Regions from separate parts of the Homo sapiens genome. Here region 2 is linked to region 1. Evidence: fine-mapped expression QTL. A gene starts in region 1. The other region holds a variant in brackets. All regions are shown on one strand. Distances are between the middles of the regions.

The links.
Region 2: its variant is fine-mapped to the expression of ARRB1 in whole blood (TOPMed, PIP 0.97).

The regions. Positions count from the first base shown.
Region 1 is chr11:75,348,600-75,353,969 of GRCh38, forward strand. It overlaps ARRB1 (arrestin beta 1), which reads right to left and starts at 3,062. Exons shown (of 16, transcript NM_004041.5): 1 at 2,989-3,062. The coding sequence starts at 3,008. RefSeq lists enhancers at 2,203-2,252, 3,315-4,270 and a silencer at 2,803-3,082.
Region 2 is chr11:75,376,803-75,382,172 of GRCh38, forward strand. No RefSeq gene overlaps it. Among named protein-coding and RNA genes, the nearest start is that of RPS3, 20 kb to the right of the region's middle. RefSeq lists an enhancer at 4,379-5,027. The variant A/G (reference allele first, on the strand shown) is at 3,013.

The DNA.
Region 1 (5,370 bases):
TTTTTTTTTATTTTTTCAGACAGGGTCTCACTCTCTCATCCAGGCTGGAGTGCAGTGGCATGATCATGGCTCACTGCAGCCTTAACCTCCAGGGCTCAAGTGATCCTCCCACTTCAGCCTCCAGAGTAGTTAGGACTATAGGCATGTGCCACCACACTCAGCTAATTTTTGTGTTTTTTGTAGAGATGGTATGTTGCCCAGACTGGTCTCGAACTCCTGAGCTCAAGCAATCTGCCCATCTCAGCCTTCCAAAGTTCTAGGATTACAGGCGTGAACCACCGCGCACAGCCCTGTCCAGGTATTTAACACCTCTTTCCCCCTTGACCCTGGGAGTTCCTAGAGGGCAATGACAGTTTGTGATAAATTTTCATTGTCACTTTCACATGGGGGTGCAATTCCAGATGGAGGGATGGTTGCGATGATTCCTGATGTTCAGTTTTTGATATCTGCAGATTCCTCTTCTAAGTCATAGGTACTCATGCCTTACGGAAAAAGACAAGGTACAGCCCATTACTGATTTTGCCCTTCTTTTCCAAATTACTTAGCCAACTGTCCGGAAAGGGACAGAAAGGCCTCATGGGGCTGCAGGAGAGTCTGAAGGGGAGGTCTGGGCCACCATCAGGTGGATTTAGCCGGGCCTTGGCTCCAGGCTTCAGGCAGTGCCTCTTCCCCTGCCCAGTGAAGTCAGTAAGTACAAGGGAAGCCCTAAAATGTAAGTATTGATAGCTCCAGTTTACAGATGGGAAACTAACGTCCGGAAAAGTAAAGGCAATTGCCCAATGTCCCAAAGGTCCACCAGTGAGTTTGAGGCAGGGCAGGGGGAGCCATGGAAAATACCTTGGCCTCAGAGACAGGGTCTCCAACAGGTGCCTGGAAGCCCATGGTGTCCACATCTTCCTGACAATCATGTCAGCAGGACAACAATGACACTTATCCCCCAAGTCACAGAGAGGTACAGAGAGACCCAAGAGAGGCTGAGTCACTCCGATCACAAGGCAGCCTAGGAAGGACAATGGAGTGGAGAATGGCTCCGACTCCCTGCTATGCCCTGCAGGAAGAAAAGCCTGACCTCATGGGTCAAGAGGGTCTTAATTTCAGGGCAGATGGATGTGGCTGGGGAAGGAGTCACATACCTTCCTACTGAGGACAGAGGCCTAGGTCACAGTGCTGGCCAGCCAGCTGCAATGGGGACTAGCCATCAAGGTTCATGCAGACACAGCATGATCTTCTGCCGTCCCCCCCAAAGCCTGGGCCTCCAGCACAGAGCAGGGCTCCCCTCCCTGGCCCATGAGGGGCCTGGCAGTGCCCTAGGGCCATCCACAGAGACATGACCAAGTGGACTCCAGCCTCCGCCCTGCCTCTGGCCCCTTTTGACCTTAGGCAAATCACATGGCCTCTAGCCCTCTGGTTCCTCTGCTAGAAAACAGGAAGAGGAAAATTAACCTCCTGGAAGAGCTGTCAGGAGGATGGCTGGAAAGTAGTTTCTAAACATTAAGAGCCTGAGTTGCCTCTGAGCCTGTTTCCTCCTCTAGAAAATGGAAATAATCTCTGCAAGCCCTTTCTCACACTGTGGAGAGAGAGTCTTAGATGGCAGTGGGTGAGAAATAGCTTTGTCAGTGGCCCTGAAAGGTGGTGCCCACCGGGGTGGTGTCTCTCTAGTCTGTTAGCTCCTTCAGGGGAGGAGTGGGCCTTGCGCATCTTTGATCCCCCACACTACGCCTAGTATACAGCAAGAGCTTAATAATAAATGGAAACGAGGAGAGGGGAGGGGAGGAAAGGAAGGAGGCAGAAGTCGGACACAAGAATAGAAGAGAAAGACAGAAAACAATGAGAAAGAGGGGGAGCCCAGGGAGAGGCTGCTGTGCCCACTTAGGGGGTGGGGAGGGCAACGGGGAAAATAGGGTGGCAACGCTGAGCCCCTGACCAGCGCTGGTCCTGTCTGAAGGGCTGCCCCCAGGGGCTGTCCTGCTCCAGCCCCCTCCTCCTTTTGTCCCAGTTTCCCCTTTCAGAGGCAGAGACTGTTTCTGAGTATTTCAGGACAGGTTCTAGGAGAACGGGAGGGGTTCTCCCAGCCCTAGGTTCAAAACAGCCCCTGGCCAGCCACTCCTCAGGAGGTCAGAGGGAAAGGGAACAGAGTAGATGGATGGGATCTATTTGGATGAAATGCGATCTGTTTTCCCCAGGCTGGGGGTGGCGGGGGGCGCTCTACCCTGTGTGATGTGTGTGTTTCCACTTCTGGCCATGTGGGGCCTGAAGCGTGTGTGTCAGCGGGCCTTGGGCTAGCAGCTCGTGCCTGTGGGGTGCCAGTCTTTGAGGGCATCAGTCTGATTGTGTCTGTGGGGGTCAGTGTTGGTGTGGCCTTGCGCTCCGCTGTGTTGGTGAGACATGCCAGCACAAGTGTGTGTGCCAGTGAGGGTGATGTGTGTGCCAGCAAGAGTGTTTGCTACAGCGAGTGCAGGTGACAGTGTGCGTATCAGTGTATGCCCACACGTGTGTGCCAGCACGAGGGTGTGCTAGAATTGGTGTGTGTTGGATTGTGAGCTGTGCATGCCAACAAGGCTGTCAGCAAGAATGTGTTGACCGAGGCGTGTATGACGGCGTGCCACTGCGTGTGATGAGCGTGTGCTAGCGGTTGCCAGTGTGTGCGCCAGCATGCCTGTGCCACGGGTTAGTGTGCCCGTGCGTGTATTGTGTGTCAACCTGCCCCCGTGCGTCTCTGCGGCTGCCGGCCAATGCTGGGTGTCAGCGAGCTGTGTGTCCGGGCCAGGAGCTGCGGCCCACATGGGGCGGCCCGGCCCTCGCCCTTTGGGTCCCCCCGCCCACGGCCCTGCCGGGGAGACCACACAGGAGACCTCGGGTGGAGGAGAGCTGGTACTAGATCCCGCGGTGGCCGCGAACGCAGAACCAGGACGCAATCGGAGCCCCCGCCCGTGTCCTCGCCGAGGTCGCCCCCACGCGCCCCCCGCCGGGCGGCCGCCCTGCACTCACCGGGTCCCTTTGTCGCCCATGGTCCGCGACGGTCGCAGGGAGGTCCGCGGCGTCAGCGCCCAGGCTGGAAAATCCCCAGCCAGCAGGAGGAGCGCGGGCCAGCCCGCTCCCGGCTCCCTGCTCCGCCTCCTCCGCTCTCCCGGCCGCCGCCGCCGCCCCCGCCCCCGGTCCCCGCCCGCCGCCCGCCGCGTCGAGCAGCGCAGCGCCCGGGCCGCGGCCAGGGGCGTGGAACCGCGCGGGGTGTGTGCGTGTGTGTATGTGTGTGTGTGTGCGCGTCTGCGTGTGCGCGCGCCGCCCAGCGAGGCAGGGCAGCGCGGCGGGACGCGTCAGGGCCCCAAGGTCGGCGTTTGTGGTGGGGGAGGGGGTCCACCCGCGTGCGAGTCCGTGTGAGAGTGTGTGTGTGTGTGTGTGGTGGTGGTGGTGGTGGTGTGGTGTATGTGAGGGCGCACGGCTGTGTGCGGGCCCTATTAGGGAGTGTATTGGTGTGGATGGAGGAGTGTGCACGTCTTTGTGCAGTTGTGCGTGTGTGCGCACGGCCGTGGGTGCGAGCGCGCTCTCCCGCGCATGCCGGGGCAGCCTTTGTGTGTGCGGGTGGTTGGAAGCCGAGGGTCTGGCGACCCCGAGGCCGCGCTCCCTGCGGCCCCTCGCTTAGCTGGAGACCCCGGGATGCCTGGCAAGGCCTTCGCCCTGTGCTCCACCCTTCCCCATTCCACCCACCCCACCCCCTTCTACTGGAGAGATAACACCCAGCCACACAACAGGGACAGGAAGAAGGGGCGGAGGGGGCAGTAGACGGCCTTGACACTGGGGAACTGAGCGGAGACCCGCGGCCAGCAGGGGCTGCAGGAGGCCGCCCAGGAAGAGGAAGCTGTGAGAAGTGAGAAGAGGCGATAAAGGAAGAGGGCAGAGCTGGCCCGCTGCTGTGACCGGGTAGCACCGTGGAAAGCGCCCATGCCCAGCTCCATGGCTCGCTGTGGGTGACCCTGTGCACTAAGCTTCTGAGAACCCATGTCCGGACCTGTAAAGTGAGGATACACTAATATCAGCCTGCAGAATTGTTAATAGGTTGAAAGAACTCGCTTGTGTTTGCTGGCCTCCCCTGAGCGCCTGCATACAGTAGGTGCCCAGTAGATGTTAGCCCACTTCTCTGCAGGCTTCTTGATGTCCTGTGAAATCTTGGCTGGGACCCTGCTTTGTCTGAGGTGCCTTCCTGCTTTGCAGGTAGTGGGAAACGGTAAGGTCTTTACCACACCCTCACTACTGAGATTTGGCTAATTATCCCGGATAGGTCCCTGATATCTAAGTATTAAGGGGAAAGTAAGCTATCATTTACTCTGATGCTGTTGTGAGTATGTAAACATCTCCTGTAATTATGCTCAGAAGCAGTTACCTATACTGTTTATATGCAGTATAATTACTATAATTATGTCCAGATTTGGCAGAGGGGCAGGGGGAGGCTGATGGGTAGGCAGGGTGGCCCACCTCTGGGCAATGTTAGGAGCTAGAGAGTATGGATGAAAGCCCAGAACCCTCCTCCCAGTCTTGGCCTCTGGGTTTCACCCTCTACAGAGGAAGAAGAGGAAGCCACCTGTTGTTTCTGCAGGGCTCAGAGATCTGGAAAGGAGCAGACTAGAATCTTCTTTGATGACAGGAGATCCCTAACCAGGATGGTGAAGCCAGGTCCTGCCACTCTCCACATCAGTTTCCCCACCTGTAAAACAGGTTTGACCAAACCATAAGATCTCCAATGGATCTCTCCATGCTGATGCCCAAAACATCTAAATATATTTATTTATTTTATTTATTTTTGAGACGAAGTCTTGCTCTGCCACCCAGGCTGGAGTACAATGGAATGATCTTGGCTCACTGCAACCTCTGCCTCCTGGGTTCAAGAAATTCTGCCACCTCAGCCTCCCCAGTAGCTGGAATTACAGCCACTGCCATCATGCCCAGCTAATTTTTGTATTTTTGTAGAGATAGGGATTCACCATGTTGGCCAGGCTGGTCTCGAACTCCTGACCTTAGGTGATCCACCCACCTTGGCCTCCCAAAGTGCTGGGATTACAGGCGTGAGCCACTGCTCCCGGTCGATTTAATTTACTTTAAATTCCAGTGAGGGAGCAACGATGGCAGAAGAAGAGTCAAGAGGACAATTTTGCTTTACCTGCCAGGCTCTATGAAAAACATATATATATATATATATATATATATATTTTTTTTTTTTTTTTTTTTTTTGAGACGGAGTCTTGCTCTGTCACCCAGGCTGGAGTGCAGTGGCGCAATCTCGGCTCACTGCAAGCTCTGCCTCCTGGGTTCGGGCCGTTCTCCTGCCTCAGCCTCCCGAGTAGCTGGGACTACAGGCGCCCACCACCACGCCCAGCT
Region 2 (5,370 bases), 28 kb after region 1:
TGTCATTTGGGGCATCCTTATACTGAAAAGTTATTTGTAGGAACATTCATTCTGTTTTATAGAATGAGGTGTTGTCCAATTCTAGAAAAAAAATTTGTTATATGTATGAAATACAAATTCAAATTTAACTGGGTGGTTTGAACTTTTATTAGCTAAGTCTGGCAACCCTATCCCTGGGTGACATTTGGCAATGTGTGGAGACACTTTTGGTTGTCAAACTGTAGGGGGGTGCGGGGTGCTACTGGCATTTAGTGAGAGAGGGGAAGGATGCTACTAAACATCCTGTAGGGCATAGGATACCCCCGCCACAACAAAGAATTCTCCAGACCAAAGTATCAATGGGTACTAGAGCACCCAGAACTCTCCTCCTCATACCCTTGACGCACCTGCCTTCCTACCCCCAAGCCATTGTGGCAAGAGACTCTTAAACTTACCACAGATGTTGGCTGGGCATGGTGGCTCATGCCTGTAATCCCAGCACTTTGGGAGGCTGAGGCGGGAGGATCACTTGAGGTCAGGAGTTCGAGACAAGCCTGGCCAAAATAATAAAACCCCATCTCTACTAAAAAATACCAAAAAAAATTAGCTGGGCATGGTGAGGCGTCCTTTCTGGACCAGCTCCTACAGCCTGGTCCCCGTGCCCATGCAGAGGTAGCTGCTGCTGCTGAGCTGATGTTGAGCATGGCAGGGACAGAGTTCTATCTTCTGCTTGGAACTGACACTGGAAAATGGGATCCTGTGGTCATGGGGGCAGTGTATTCTACTAGATTCTGCTAAGTTGCTTTAAAATTAGCTGTATCGGCTGGGCACGGTGGCTCACACCTGTAATCCCAGCACTTTGGGAGGCTGAGGCCAGCGGACCATGAGGTCAGGAGTTCGAGACCAGCCTGGCCAATATGGTGAAACCCCATCTCTACTAAAAATACAAAAATTAGCCGGGTGTGGTGGCGAGCGCCTATAGTCCCAGCTACTTGGGAGGCTAAGGCAGAAGATCGCTTGAATTCAGGAGGTGGAGGTTGCAGTAAGCCTAGATCACACCACTGCACTCCAGCCTGGGTGACAGAGCAAGACGCTGTCTCAAAAAAAAAAAAAAAAAAATTAGCTATACCATTATACTCTACCACCAGCAAGGTATGGCAGGACTGACACCAGGCTTTCAAATGCTGGCAATCTGACAGGCGAAAAGTAGCATCTTATTGTTTTAATTTGCATTTCCCTTACAATGGTAGAGATCGAATATCTTTGGATGTTCATTTTTATTTTTATTTTATTTTATTTATTTTTGGTGAGACAGAGATTTACTCTTGTTGCCCAGGCTGAAATGCAATGGCGCGATCTCGGCTTACTGCATCCCTGGCCTCCCAGGTTCAAGCGATTCTCCTGCCGCAGCCTCCCAAGTAGCTGGGATTACAGGCATGTGCCACCACGCCCGGCTAATTTTGTATTTTCAGTAGAGATGGGGTTTCACCATGTTGCCCAGGCTGATTTTGAACTCCTGACCTCAGGTGATCTGCCCGCCTCGGACTCCCAAAGTGCTGGGATTATAGGCGTGAGCCACTGTGCCCGGCCTTATTTTTTTTTTTAATTTTTTTAGTATTTATTGATCATTCTTGGGATTTGGCAGGGTCATAGGACAATAGTGGAGGGAAGGTCAGCAGATAAACATGTGAACAAAGGTCTCTGGTTTTCCTAGGCAGAGGGCCCTGCCGCCTTCCACAGTGTTTGTGTCCCTGGGTACTTGAGATTAGGGAGTGGTGATGATTCTTAACGAGCATGCTGCCTTCAAGCATCTGTTTAACAAAGCACATCTTGCACCGCCCTTAATCCATTTAACCTTGAGTGGACACAGCACATGTTTCAGAGAGCACGGGGTTGGGGGTAAGGTTATAGATTAACAGCATCCCAAGGCAGAAGAATTTTTCTTAGTACAGAACAAAATGGAGTCTCCTATGTCTACTTCTTTCTACACAGACACAGTAACAATCTGATCTCTCTTTCTTTTCCCCACATTTCCCCCTTTTCTATTCGACAAAACCGCCAGCGTCATCATGGCCCGTTCTCAATGAGCTGTTGGGTACACCTCCCAGATGGGGTGGCGGCCGGGCAGAAGGGCTCCTCACTTCCCGGACGGGGCAACTGGGCAGAGGCGCCCCCCACCTCCCAGACGGGGCGGCAGCCAGGCGGGGACTGCCCCCCACCTCCCGGACGGGGCATTTTTTATTTTTTATGTTTTTAAAATTTATTAACTCATATACCTGCACATCATACAACAGTCAAAAATCATCAGTGAGCCAGGAACGGTGGTTCACGCCTGTAATGTCAGCACTTTGGGAGGCCGAGGCAGGAGGATTGCTTGAGCTCAGGAGTTCAAGACCAGCCTGGGCAACATAATAAGATCTCATCTTTACTTTAAAATTTTTTTTAATTAGCCAGATGTGGTGGCACATGCTTGTAGTCCAGCTACTTGGGAGGCTGAGGTGGGAGGATCACTTGAGCCCAGGAGGTCAAGGCTGCAGTGATCTGTGATTGCACCAGTGCACTCTAGCCTGAGCAACAGAGCCAGACCCTGTCTCAAAAAAAAAAAAAAAAAAAAAGAGTCAGTAAAAAGTAAATCTCCTTTCCATAGATCTGAAGCCAGCTCCCATTGAAAGACCGTGTCTGAAAGAAGTTTCTGGTGTTTCCTTCCAGAGATATTCAATGCATATATAAGCACTTGGATGTACAGGCTTTCCTTTTGGTTTTTAAACAAATTGTCAACCAGGCATGGTGGCTCATGCCTGTAATCCCAGCATTTTGGGAGGCCGAGGTGGGCGGACCACTTGAGGTCAGGAGTTCAAGACCAGCCTGGCCAACATGTTGAAACCCCATCTCTGCTAAAAATGCAAAAATTAGCCAGGCATGGTGGTGGGCGCCTGTAATCCCAGCTACTCAGGAAGCTGAGGCATGAGAATCACTTGAACCCGGGAGGTGGAAGTTGCAGTGAGCCGAGATCATGCCACTGCATTCCAGCCC[A/G]GGCAACAGAACAAGACTCCAAGACTCCGTCTCAAAAAATAAACTAAACTAAACAAATTGTAACATTTTCCACAGTGTTCTGCACTTTTCTTTCTTTCTTTTTTTTTTTTTTTTATGAGACAGGGTCTTACCCTGTCATCCAGACTGGAATGCAGTGATCTTGCCTCACTGCAGCCACAACCTCCTGGGTTCAAGCAATCCTCCTGCCTCAGCCCCCCAAGTAGCTGGAACTATAGGCATGCACCACCACACCTGGCTAGTTATTTTTTTTTCTATTTTCTGTAGAGATGGGTTTTTGCCACATTGCCCAGGCTGGTCTTGAACTCCTGGGCTCATATGATCCTCCCGAAAGTGCTAGGGTTACAGGCATGAGCCACTGCACCTGGAATTTTTTTAAATCCTGGAAAATGGCTTATCCCAATACACATAGAGGTATCTCATTATTGTACATGATTCATAGTATCCCATCTGATGGACACAGTACAATTTTGAACAGTTCCCTAGCGTTGGACATTTTGGTGGCTTCCAATATTTTGCTATAGTGAATATTTTTGTGCATATACAATATCTCACCTATAGGAATGTATTTGCAGGATAATTTCCTGGAAGCACTAGAAGCGCAACTGCTGGGTCAAAGGGCAAGTGTATTTAAAATGTTCAAGGTTATTACCAAGTTGCCTTTCACATCAATTCACTGTTTATGTCATTTTATGATCATACAGAAGCTTTTTTTAAATTCAGAGAAAAATATAACACAGTCATTGTCTTTGATAATAAGAAACCAGCATTTATGAAGCATCTACTGTGTATCAGGAACTTTACACATATTGCCAAAAACACTCAGGACCCCTCTGAGGCACAATGAATTAAGTATTTTGTTCGAGGCACCCACAAAGGAGGTGGCAGAACCAGAAACCAAGCCACGGTCTGTCAGGATCCTCAGCTTGGGCCTGGGCTTGCTCCTTGTCATCATGCAGAAGCTGACACCCTGGTATGAGGAACTGGATTCCAGCATAACTCACAGTGATGTCACATGACAGGTGTCTGCATGGAGGCCTGAACCAAGAGCTGGAACACAGACCCAGAGAACAGGGCAGGTCGGGTGGCGGTGGGGTAGCTGAAGGGGCTTCACAGAGGCAAGAGCCTTGAAGGTGAGGCCTAAGGGTTGGAGGGAACAGATTTTGCTGGTGAAAAGTAGACAAGGCTGCTCAGGGGAAAGGGATCCACAAAGACATAGAGGCCTGAAAATCAACTGGGGAAAGAAGAGCTAGTGTGCACAGAGCAGAGGTTGGTCTGGGGCTGAGGCTGGAAAGGTGGGGTGCAGGCAGCGGGTGAAGAACCCCTTGCAGGCTGCTCTATGGAGCTTGGGCCTTCCAGCGGGAGGCTGCTCATCTGGGAGGCTGGACAGGGCACATGGCATGGGGTGGAGCTCAGACTCTGGAGCTAATCTTACCTCCACCCCTTCCTGGCTCTGTGCGCTGTCTCCTCCTCTGTGAAACAGAGAATCTAATTCATAACATTGTGGGAATTAAATGTGCTAAGACAAGTTTAAAAAATAAAAAACACTGGCTGGGCATGGTGGCTCACGCTTGTAATCCCAGCACTTTGGGAGGCCGAGATGGGCAGGACGGGTGCATCACGAGGTCAGGAGATGAAGACCATTCTGGCTAACACGGTGAAACCCCGTCTCTACTAAAAATACCCAAAAAATTAGCCAGGCGTGGTGGCAGGCACCTGTAGTCCCAGTTACTCAGGAGGCTGAGGCAGGAGAATGGCGTGAACCCGGGAGGCAGAGCTTGCAGTAAGCCGAGATTGCGCCACTGCACTCCAGCCTGGGCAACAGAGCGAGATTTCGTCTCAAAATAAGTAAATAAATAAATAACACCTGACACTTCACAAGCACTCAAGAAGTGGTAGCCATTTATTAGCCAACAATTGAATTGTTTTAAAAAGTTGTTTTTTTAAATGGATAACCTCTTTTTTTTAGGTTGTTAAAAAAAATCTTAGTTGGCAGAGCATTGGTTCCATTTGGCAGGAGATGACAGGAGGTGATATCATAACGGCCCAGTCCAAGCACCACTGACAAGGGTTTTGATCAGAGCGATGTCAGGTCCATCTCTGGGCAGCACAGCTGCCGAGACAGCTCTCAGTAGTTTATATGTGTTGCCAAACAATAATTGTCCTAAAGTGTTGAAATGCTGTTACGCAAATGCAGATTTTAGAAAGTTAGCATTTATTTAGCTCTTACTATTATAATTAAAGTATCTAATCCTCACACCAACCTTATTGGAGAAGTACTCTTATTATCCCCATTTTACAGATGACAAAACTGAGATCCAAAGAGAGCTTTAGGCCATC